Linked DNA regions of Homo sapiens: region 2 is linked to region 1. The links come from fine-mapping of genetic effects on gene expression. A gene starts in region 1. The other region holds a variant in brackets. All regions are shown on one strand. Distances are from middle to middle. Region 1 holds the start of NUDT18 (nudix hydrolase 18). Region 2 overlaps PIWIL2 (piwi like RNA-mediated gene silencing 2).

Evidence for each region. PIP is the estimated chance that this variant, and not a neighbour inherited with it, causes the effect. A credible set is the group of variants that fine-mapping cannot tell apart.
Region 2: its variant is the best candidate, but not a certain one, in a credible set for the expression of NUDT18 in pancreas (GTEx, PIP 0.71).

The regions. Positions count from the first base shown.
Region 1 is chr8:22,107,095-22,111,618 of GRCh38, forward strand. It overlaps NUDT18 (nudix hydrolase 18), which reads right to left and starts at 2,325. Exons shown (of 3, transcript NM_024815.4): 1 at 2,045-2,325; 2 at 1,039-1,252; 3 at 1-801. The coding sequence starts at 2,206. The coding sequence ends at 206. RefSeq lists enhancers at 125-269, 666-1,439, a cis regulatory region at 197 and a silencer at 1,899-2,678.
Region 2 is chr8:22,327,596-22,331,595 of GRCh38, forward strand. The region is part of intron 20 of PIWIL2 (piwi like RNA-mediated gene silencing 2); the gene reads left to right. Among named protein-coding and RNA genes, the nearest start is that of SLC39A14, 38 kb to the right of the region's middle. The variant T/TA (reference allele first, on the strand shown) is at 1,531.

The DNA of each region.
Region 1 (4,524 bases):
GACTCCTCGCTTGGTTAAAGGCACTGTCCCTTGTGCAATCTAGAGGAATGCTCCTCAAAGCATCTCTCCTGGGGACCAGGAGAGCCGCCCCTGCTCCCAATGCAACAAGATCCCTGATCGCCAGCCTCTTGCCTCCCTCAGAGGGAGACAAGTCCGCACTGGAGGGAGCACGGCTGCCTAGCTCCCTGTCACCTCCCCCACCTCTCTATCTGTTCACTGGGACAACAGAGGATCCCTGAAGCCGCTGGAGGAGCTGGCTTTGCAGGTCTTCCTCCATCACCTTCCACCAAGAGAAGTTCTCACCCCGAACTTTTGGGGGTTCATCCTGGATCCCTGGGCTCCGAAAAGCCACGGTCACCAGCACATTCAAACAGATGCCATCACTGTGATCTCGGCCCAGGTGCTGCAGTCCAAGCAACCCCTTGATCTCCACCACCAAGTGGTGCAGGGTCAGACACTCCTGCAGCAGCCGCAGGACGGCCATCTTCATGCCACCCCTCTGCTCCATAGGGTCGAGGCCACAGGCAGTGACAGGCAAGTGAGGCATCCCCACTGTGCCCACTAACACCCACACTGTCTGGGCGCTGGTAAAGGTAGCCACGAGCCGCTGGCAGACCAGATCACAGGGTAGCTCTTGGGGCAGAATGAGAGGGTGCCTGGCTTGCTGGCGATACTGGGCGGCTAGTTCAACCAGGTGCAGGATGTCATGGGCTCGCAGCGGAGTGGGCAGGGAGGTCCGTGGGTACCAGGCAGCCTGCAGGGACTCCGCATCGGCCTCCTTGGAAGTCTTGAGAATTCCACCTGGGGGAGATGTGGGGGATGGGGCAGGGAGGGTCTGTGTGGAGAGAAGTGCAGCTCTGGCAGAGTCAACAGACATCCCTGACCCAGGAGAGAGGCCCCCAGCCCAAAGGCTGGAATCTGCCCATGCCAGGCTGTGCCAGCCATAACAGGACTGGCTGTAGAGGGGCTCACCTCACCGAGGAGCTGGGGGAAAGGTGTCAACTGGCCCTGTTCACACTGCCTCCAGGTGGGCCATACCTGTGGGGCGAGCGAGGAACACGAAGCGGACCCAGGAGGGGCCCCGCTCCTCCACGGACAGCAGTGTCTCGGGCTCACAGTGCAGCCCCGCCTCCTCCTTCACCTCCCGCTGCAGCGCCTCCACGATGGTCTCCCCTGGCTCCATTCTCCCCGCAGGCAGGTACCACGACCCCCGGCACTCCCTCTTGGCCTCCTGGATCAGTAGCACCTCATCCTGAGAGGAGAGAGGATCCTCACTTCCTGCCACAGCCTTCCCTCGCCCCGGGACCAGGGGGCATCTCAAACACAGTCGCCCAAGACTCCCCTCTGGGTGGACACTCTCAACCCAGCTAGCGCTCCAGGAGACCTGCCCTCGTGTCGCTGGGGGCTGCAGCCCTCTCCTCTCTGCAATTCGTCTCTCTCTGGATTTAGGAAGACTTCCATTTCAGGAAGGGCTGAGATTCCTGGAAGCCGCTTCAGGGGCTGGAGATGAGGCCCCAGAGTGAGGGTCACCATGTGTCTGTCTGTCTTGGATTGATTTGCGTCTGTACCTGCCACTGTGTATCTCTCGCCTCCAACGGCGTGGTTTACAAACTGTGATGGGTCCTCACACTGGGGTCTGGCTTGAAACACGACCCCCACCTCCGCTCTGTACAACCCCGCCCTATGGCCCTGGCCCCGTCTAGTTGTCATTACATCGCCCACTACAGGCATCAGCACCAAAGGCCTGAAGGTAAGCCGGGATTGAGCCACTGCTATCTGAGGGGCCCTGGGCACTCCGCTAGACTCTGGGGAAGGGAAGGAATGAGGCCTAGTCGGATGAGACAAACAGGCCCCGGGCCTCAGTTTCCTCTTCTGCATATCGGGACGAACGCAGGACACAGATGCGAGTGGGAGTGGGAGTGCTTTGCAAAACTGGGAAGCGCCACGCACGCGGCAGCGCTGGCTGTGGCCGTTGGGTCTTCTGTCCCCACCTGGGCTGGCTGCGCGCTCCCGAGGCCCGGCGGGCCCGGGGGCGGCCGCTCACCTGCTCGCTGAGGAACACGGCCAGCACCACGTAGCACACGTTCTTCCGCAGCCGCACGGGCGCCGGCGGCTCCCCGGCCGGCGCCGAGTCGCAGCTGTGCACGCTGGACCCCTGGCCAGCCAGCACGGAAGCCAGCGCCCCCGCCAGGCCCTCCGAGGCCATCGGGTCCCCCGGGGGGCGGCGGGCCGGATCCTCGCAGACCGACTGAGCCGAGCCGCGGGCTAGAGTGCGCTGCGGAGCCCGCTCCCAGTCCCTGCGGCAGCGGGCCGGGAGCTCACGAGAACGCGGAAGCGCACGCGAACGCGGAAGCGCACGCGAGCTCTGGCCGCTGATAGGCTGCGCGGCGCCGCGGCCTGCCCGGATTGGCCGGCCCGCGGCATTCACCGAGGGGGCGGGGCCGCCCGGGGCCGCCCTGGAACTGGGGGGGCACGGGTCCGGAGCCCAGCGGACCCCGCCCGGCTTCTGCCGCCTGTCAGTCCCGTGCGCTCGGGACGTCTCCCAGCCGCCACCCGCTCGCCAACTCCCCGAGCGCGCACTGGTCTGCAGGAGCTCCGACGGTGACGTCATCTTTCCTGCAGGGCGCGTTGCGCCGCCGGGGTAGGCGACGGTGACGCGACAATCCGGTGACGTCACGGAGGCCCGGGGCCGCCCCCTGGAACCACTGTCCCGCTGTTGCCGTAAACACACAATGGCATTGCCGGAGTTGATCATATCCCAAATACCTTTCTTCTCATTCCACCAAAGAGTTATAAATGTCACATGGCCCGTGGGGTGGGGGACATAAACCCCTGCCTTGAAGGAGATTCTGCAATAGTTGGAGAGATGGACGGAGTCCTAGATGAGGAGTCAGCTGAGGGTTCGAGGCTAAGTGCTAAATGCTTGGTTTGGGCAGGAAGAGTGACAGGCGCTGGAAGGAGGGAGGGGGCAGGGCTGGGGATGGCGGGAGGGGTCCGGGGCTGAGAGAAGGCTGCCGTCAGCCGGCCCACCCTCATCAGTGTCCCTCTGCCTACCGCATTTCCCACGCAGCTCAAGGCCCTCTCTGCTGCAGATGGTGCGCCCTGGGAGGGCGGGGGTGGGGCCCTGCTCCTCCATCCTTGTCGTCACCCTCCCACCCAGCGTGCAGGACCTGGCGCGTGGAGAGCAGGGTGGGGGTGGTTGTGGCGAGCGCCTGCTCCTCTCCCAGCTCGGCCTTTCCTCCTTCACCCCACCTCAGCACTGGAAGGCAAAGCCAGCTGGAAGGGATCTGCGAAGCAGGCCGTCTGGCTCCTCACCTGGCAGAGGCCACCCCTTTCCTCTGCCTCTGATAGTTTTGTGCGCCTCCCTGCTAGGGAGACTGTGGCTTGGTGGTGTGGACAAAGCTCAGGACCTGCAGCCAGATGGCCAGCCACTGCTGACTGGCTTGCTCTGTGCTCCTGGGTGAGCTGTGGGCCTCAATTTTCTTATTTGTAGAGCAGGATCATAGCAATTCTTCTTTTACAGGGGTGTTGGGAAGCCACAACAATTGGAGAGGAGCTGTGTGGATTGTCCAGCACTGGGCACCGTCCCCAGGCAGCCCACCAACCCTCAGGGGTGGTCCCTCTCCACCATAGCTCTTGCTACCACACGCAAGGCCTGCCCTCATGAAATGTGACTTTTGTTATCCCCTAGAGTCAGGGTTTCACTGTGTTGCTCAGATTGGAGGTGCAGTGGCGTGATCACAGCTCCTACTGCAGACTTGATCTCTTGGATTCGAGTCATCCTCCTGCCTCAGACTCCTGAGTAGCTGGGACTGCAGGTGTGCACCACCACGCCTGGCTAAATTTTTAATTTTTAATTCTTTGTAGAAACGAGGGTCTTGCTGTATTGCCCAGGCTGGTCTTGAACTCCTGGCCTCAGTGATCCTCCCACCTTGGCCTTCCAAAGTGCTGTGGTTGCAGGCATGAGCCACCATGCCTGGCGAAATGTGCCTGTAGAGCTGCCTTAGAACTGGACTCAGGAACTTCAGCAACGCAGGATGCATCTCTTTAGGCTCCTCTCACCTGCTGATACTGACCACAGGCTCCCTGGAGGCAGGGCCCTGTGTTAGGCTGTGGGATATCACTAGAAGGCCCATGAATTTTGAGGCACTTGCTGAACGCCGCTGGGCCAGGCCCTATCATGGACCTCTCACCTTCCAAATAACTGCAGGCACAGGACCCCAGGACTGCAGAGCAACTTGTCAACATATTTGCTCTGTGTGTGTGTGTGTGTGTGTGTGTGTGTGTGTGTGTGTGTGTGTCTTGCGGCACACACATGTGTGAATCCCTCAGTTTTCCCACCTGTGAAGTGGGGGAAGTTGGACCCAGACTCCTGTCTGCCTCGCAGGGATGATTTGAGAGAGTGAGATCATGTCTAGGCAGGGATCTGGGAGCTTCAGAGGCAGCCTAAGGTAAACAACAGAAGGCCTCACTGCCCAGAGAGCAAAGACCGCAGCAAACCGTGGCTCCACGCCTCCCATTATC
Region 2 (4,000 bases), 220 kb after region 1:
ACCTCAGGTGATCCGCCTACCTTGGCCTCCCAAAGTGCTGGGATTACAGGCATGAATCACCATGCCCGGCTTGAATCATCACTGTTGTGAAGTATCTCATTGTGGTTTTGACTTGCGTTTCTTAATGACCAGTGATGTTGAACATCCTTCATGTGCTTGTTGCTCGTTTGTGTCATTCAAATCCTTTGCCCATTTAAATTGGGCTATTTGTCGTTTTGTTGTTGAGTCGTAGGAGTTTTTAAAATATTCTGGAAACTATACTCTTATCTGATGTATGATTTACAAATATCTCCCCCCATTCTTTAGATTTTCACTTGCTTGATAATGGTCTCTGCTGCACGAAAATTTTAAATTTTGATAACATGCAATTTATCTATTGTATCTTTTGTTCCTTATGGTTTTGGTGCTCAATCTAAGAATTCATTGCCAAATCCAAGGTCATAAAAGCTTGTCCCCTGTTTTTTTTTTCTAACAATGTTATACTTTTTAACTCTTACATATAAGTCACTGATTTGAGTTATACAAAGTGAGGTAAGGGTCCAGTTTTATTCTTTCGCATCTGGATATCTACTTGTCATAGCACCATTCGTTGAGAGAATTCCCCATTGAGAAATCTTGGCACCCTACTTGAAAATCAATTGTCATGGATGTTTGGGTTTATTTCTGGACTGCTAATTCTATTCCATTGGTCTGTGCATCTCATTTTATGCCAGTAACACACTGTTTTGATTATTGTTGCTTTGTAATAAGTTTTGAAATTGGAGAGTGTGAGTCTTCCAACTTTATTTTTCTTTTTCAGTATTGTTTTTGCTATTCAGTGCCCCCTTGGAATTGTATATGAATTTGAGAGAAGGTTTTTTTGTTTCTGCAAAAAAAGGCCATTGAAACTTTCATAGGGATTGTATTGAATATCTAGATTACTTTGAAGAGTATTGTCATCTTAACAATACTGTCTTCCAGCATATGGACACAGGATGTCTTTCTATTTATTTAGATCTTTTTAAATTTCTTTCAGCAGTGTTTTGTAGTTTCCATGTATAAGTCTTTACCTGTTTGGTTGAAGTTTATTCCTAGCTATTTTATTCTTTTGGATGCTATTGTAAATGGAATAGTTTTAATTTCATTTTTGGGTTGTTCATTGCTGGCATATAGAAACACAACTGTTTTTATGTGTTGATCATGTACCCTGTAACTTTTCTGAATGTGGTTATGAGCTCTAGTCGTTTTTTTTTTTTTTTTTTTAATTCTTTGGGATTTTCTAGATACAGAATAATGTCATTTGCTTATGGGAATGGAGTCTTCTTTCTTTTCAGTTTGAATTCTTTTTATTTCCTTTTCTTTCTTAATTTGCTTAGTTTATTTCCTTTTCTTCCTTAATTGTTATGGCTAGGATTTCTATTATGGTATTGAATAGCAGTGCTAAAATCAGGCATCTTTGTCTTTTTCCTGATAGTAGAGGCAAAGGTTTCAGTTTTTCACCATTGTATATGATGTTAGCTCTGAGTTTTTCATAAATTTCCTTTATCATGT[T/TA]AAGAAAGTTTCTGCTCCTAATTTGCTGAGTATTTTTATAATGAAAGTGTGTTGGATTTTATCAGATGATTTTTCTGCATATTAACTTTTAACAGTCTTGTTCAGATTAATACCAAATTAATTTTAATAGTTGTGTCAGGCCATTCTTGCATTGCTGTAACAAGATACCTGAGACTGGATAATTTATAAAGAAAAGAGGTTTAATTGGCTCATGGTTCTGCAGGCTTTACACGAAGCATAATGCTGGCATCCACTCAGCTGCTAGGGAGGCCTCAGGAAGCTTACAGTCATGGTGGAAGGTGAAGCAGAAGCAGGCACTTCACATGGTGAAAGCAGGAGTAAATGAGAGAGAGAGAAAGTGAGAGAGAAGAAGAGGCGGTACACATTTTAAGTGACCAAATCTTTGTGTAAACTCAAAGCAAGAGCTCACTTATCACCAGGGGATGGCCCAAGCCATTCCTGAGGGATCTGCTCCTATAATCGAAACACCTCCCACCATGCCCCACCTCCAGTATTGGGAATTACATGTCAACATGAGATTTGGCAGGGACACACATTCAGACTGTAGCAATAGTATATAGAAACTTTGTTCCTGTATAGTTCTATTCTCTCCCACTTTCTTGGTGCTAATTCTGTATTAGCATTCCCCAGAGAAACTGGACTGATAGGGTGTGAGCATGTGTATAGATTTATTTTAACAAATAGGCTTACACAGTTATGGAGGCTGGCAAGTTCAAAATCTGCAGGATGAACCAATAGGCTGGAGACCCAGGGGATAGCTGATGTTGCAGGTCAGCTTTGAGTTTATCCTGCTTGGTGTCCCTTAGGCTTTGGGGATGTGTCCGTTAATGTTTTTCCTCAAATTTGGGAAATTTTTGTGTTAATTATTTACTCAGATATTCTTTTTGCCCCTTCCTCTTGTTCTTCTCCTTTTGAGACAGCAAATATTTATATGATGGTGTGTTTGTTGGTATCTCCCAGGTTTCAGAGGCTGTCTTCATTTTTCTTTCTTATTTCTTTTTCTTATACTGGATATAATCTCAACTGACATCGTTTCTGGTTTCCTAATTATTTCTTCTGCTTGCTCAAATCTGCTGTTAAGCACCTCTAGTAAATTTTTCATTGCAGTTACCATAGTTTCTCACTCCTGAATTTCTATTTGGTTCTTTCTTGTAATTTCTGTGCCTTTATTGATAGTCTTTATTTGGTGAGACACATTCTCATACTTTCGTTAAGGTCTTAAGACATGGTTTCCTTTAGTTCTTTGAACAATATTTAAAATAGTTGATATAGCCGGGCGTGGTGGCTCACGCCTATAATCCCAGTACTTTGGGAGGCCGAGGCGGGTGGATCACGAGGTCAGGGGTTCGAGACCAGCCTGACCAACATGGAGAAACCCCATCTCTACTAAAAATACACACATTAGCTGGGCGTAGTGGCGGGCACCTGTAATCCCAGCTACTCAGGAGGCTGAAGCAGGAGAACTGCTTGAACCTGGGAGGCGGAGGTTGCAGTGAGCCGAGATCATGCCACTGCACTCCAGCCTGGGCAACAGAGTGAGACTCTGTCTCAAAATAAATAAATAAATAAATAAATAAATAAATAAATAAATAAATAAAAATAGTTGATATAAAGACTGTCTATAGGACCACGTCTGGGCTTCCTCAAGGACAGTCTCTGTTGACTTTTTTTCCCCATGCATACGTGTCCTACTTTTCTATTTCTTGGCAAGCATCATAATTCTTTGTTGAAAACTGGAAATTTAAGCTGGGCACGAGGTGGCTCACGCCTGTAATCCCAGCACTTTGGGAGGCTGAGGCGGGTGGATCCCCTGAAGTCAGGAGTTCGAGACCAGCCTGGCCAACATGGTGAAACCCCGTCTCTACCAAAAATAGAAAAAATTAGCCTGGTGTGGTGGTGGACTCCTGTAATCCCAGCTACTAAGGAGGCTGAGGGAGGAGAATTGCTTGAACCCAGGAGGTGGAGGTTGCAGTGAGCCAAGATTGTGCCAATGCAGTCCAGCCTAAGCTACAGAGCGAGACTCTGTCTCAAAAAAATAAAAATAAAAAATAAAAAGTTCTGACCTACAGAGGATTCAGATAATTGATCAGACACATTTAAAAGTAACTTTTAGCCAAGGTAGGAGGATAGCTTGAGGCCAGGAGTCTGCAACCAGCCTGCTCAACATAGTGAGATCTCGTCTCTACAAAAAAGAAATTAAAATTTTTAATTTCTATTTTTTTTTGTTTTCTATTTTATTTTCTTTAATTTCTAAAGCCCGAGGAGTTCAAGGTTGCAGTGAGCCATGATCGCATTACTGCACTCCCTCTTTCAACAGAGCGAGACCCTGTTGCAAATAAAAATAAAAATGACTTTTACCTAAATTCTTCAAAGAGATGAAATACAACATTAAGAATTTTAACAAAGAATTAGAAAGCATGAAAAAAATTGGAATTTTTAGAAATGAAAA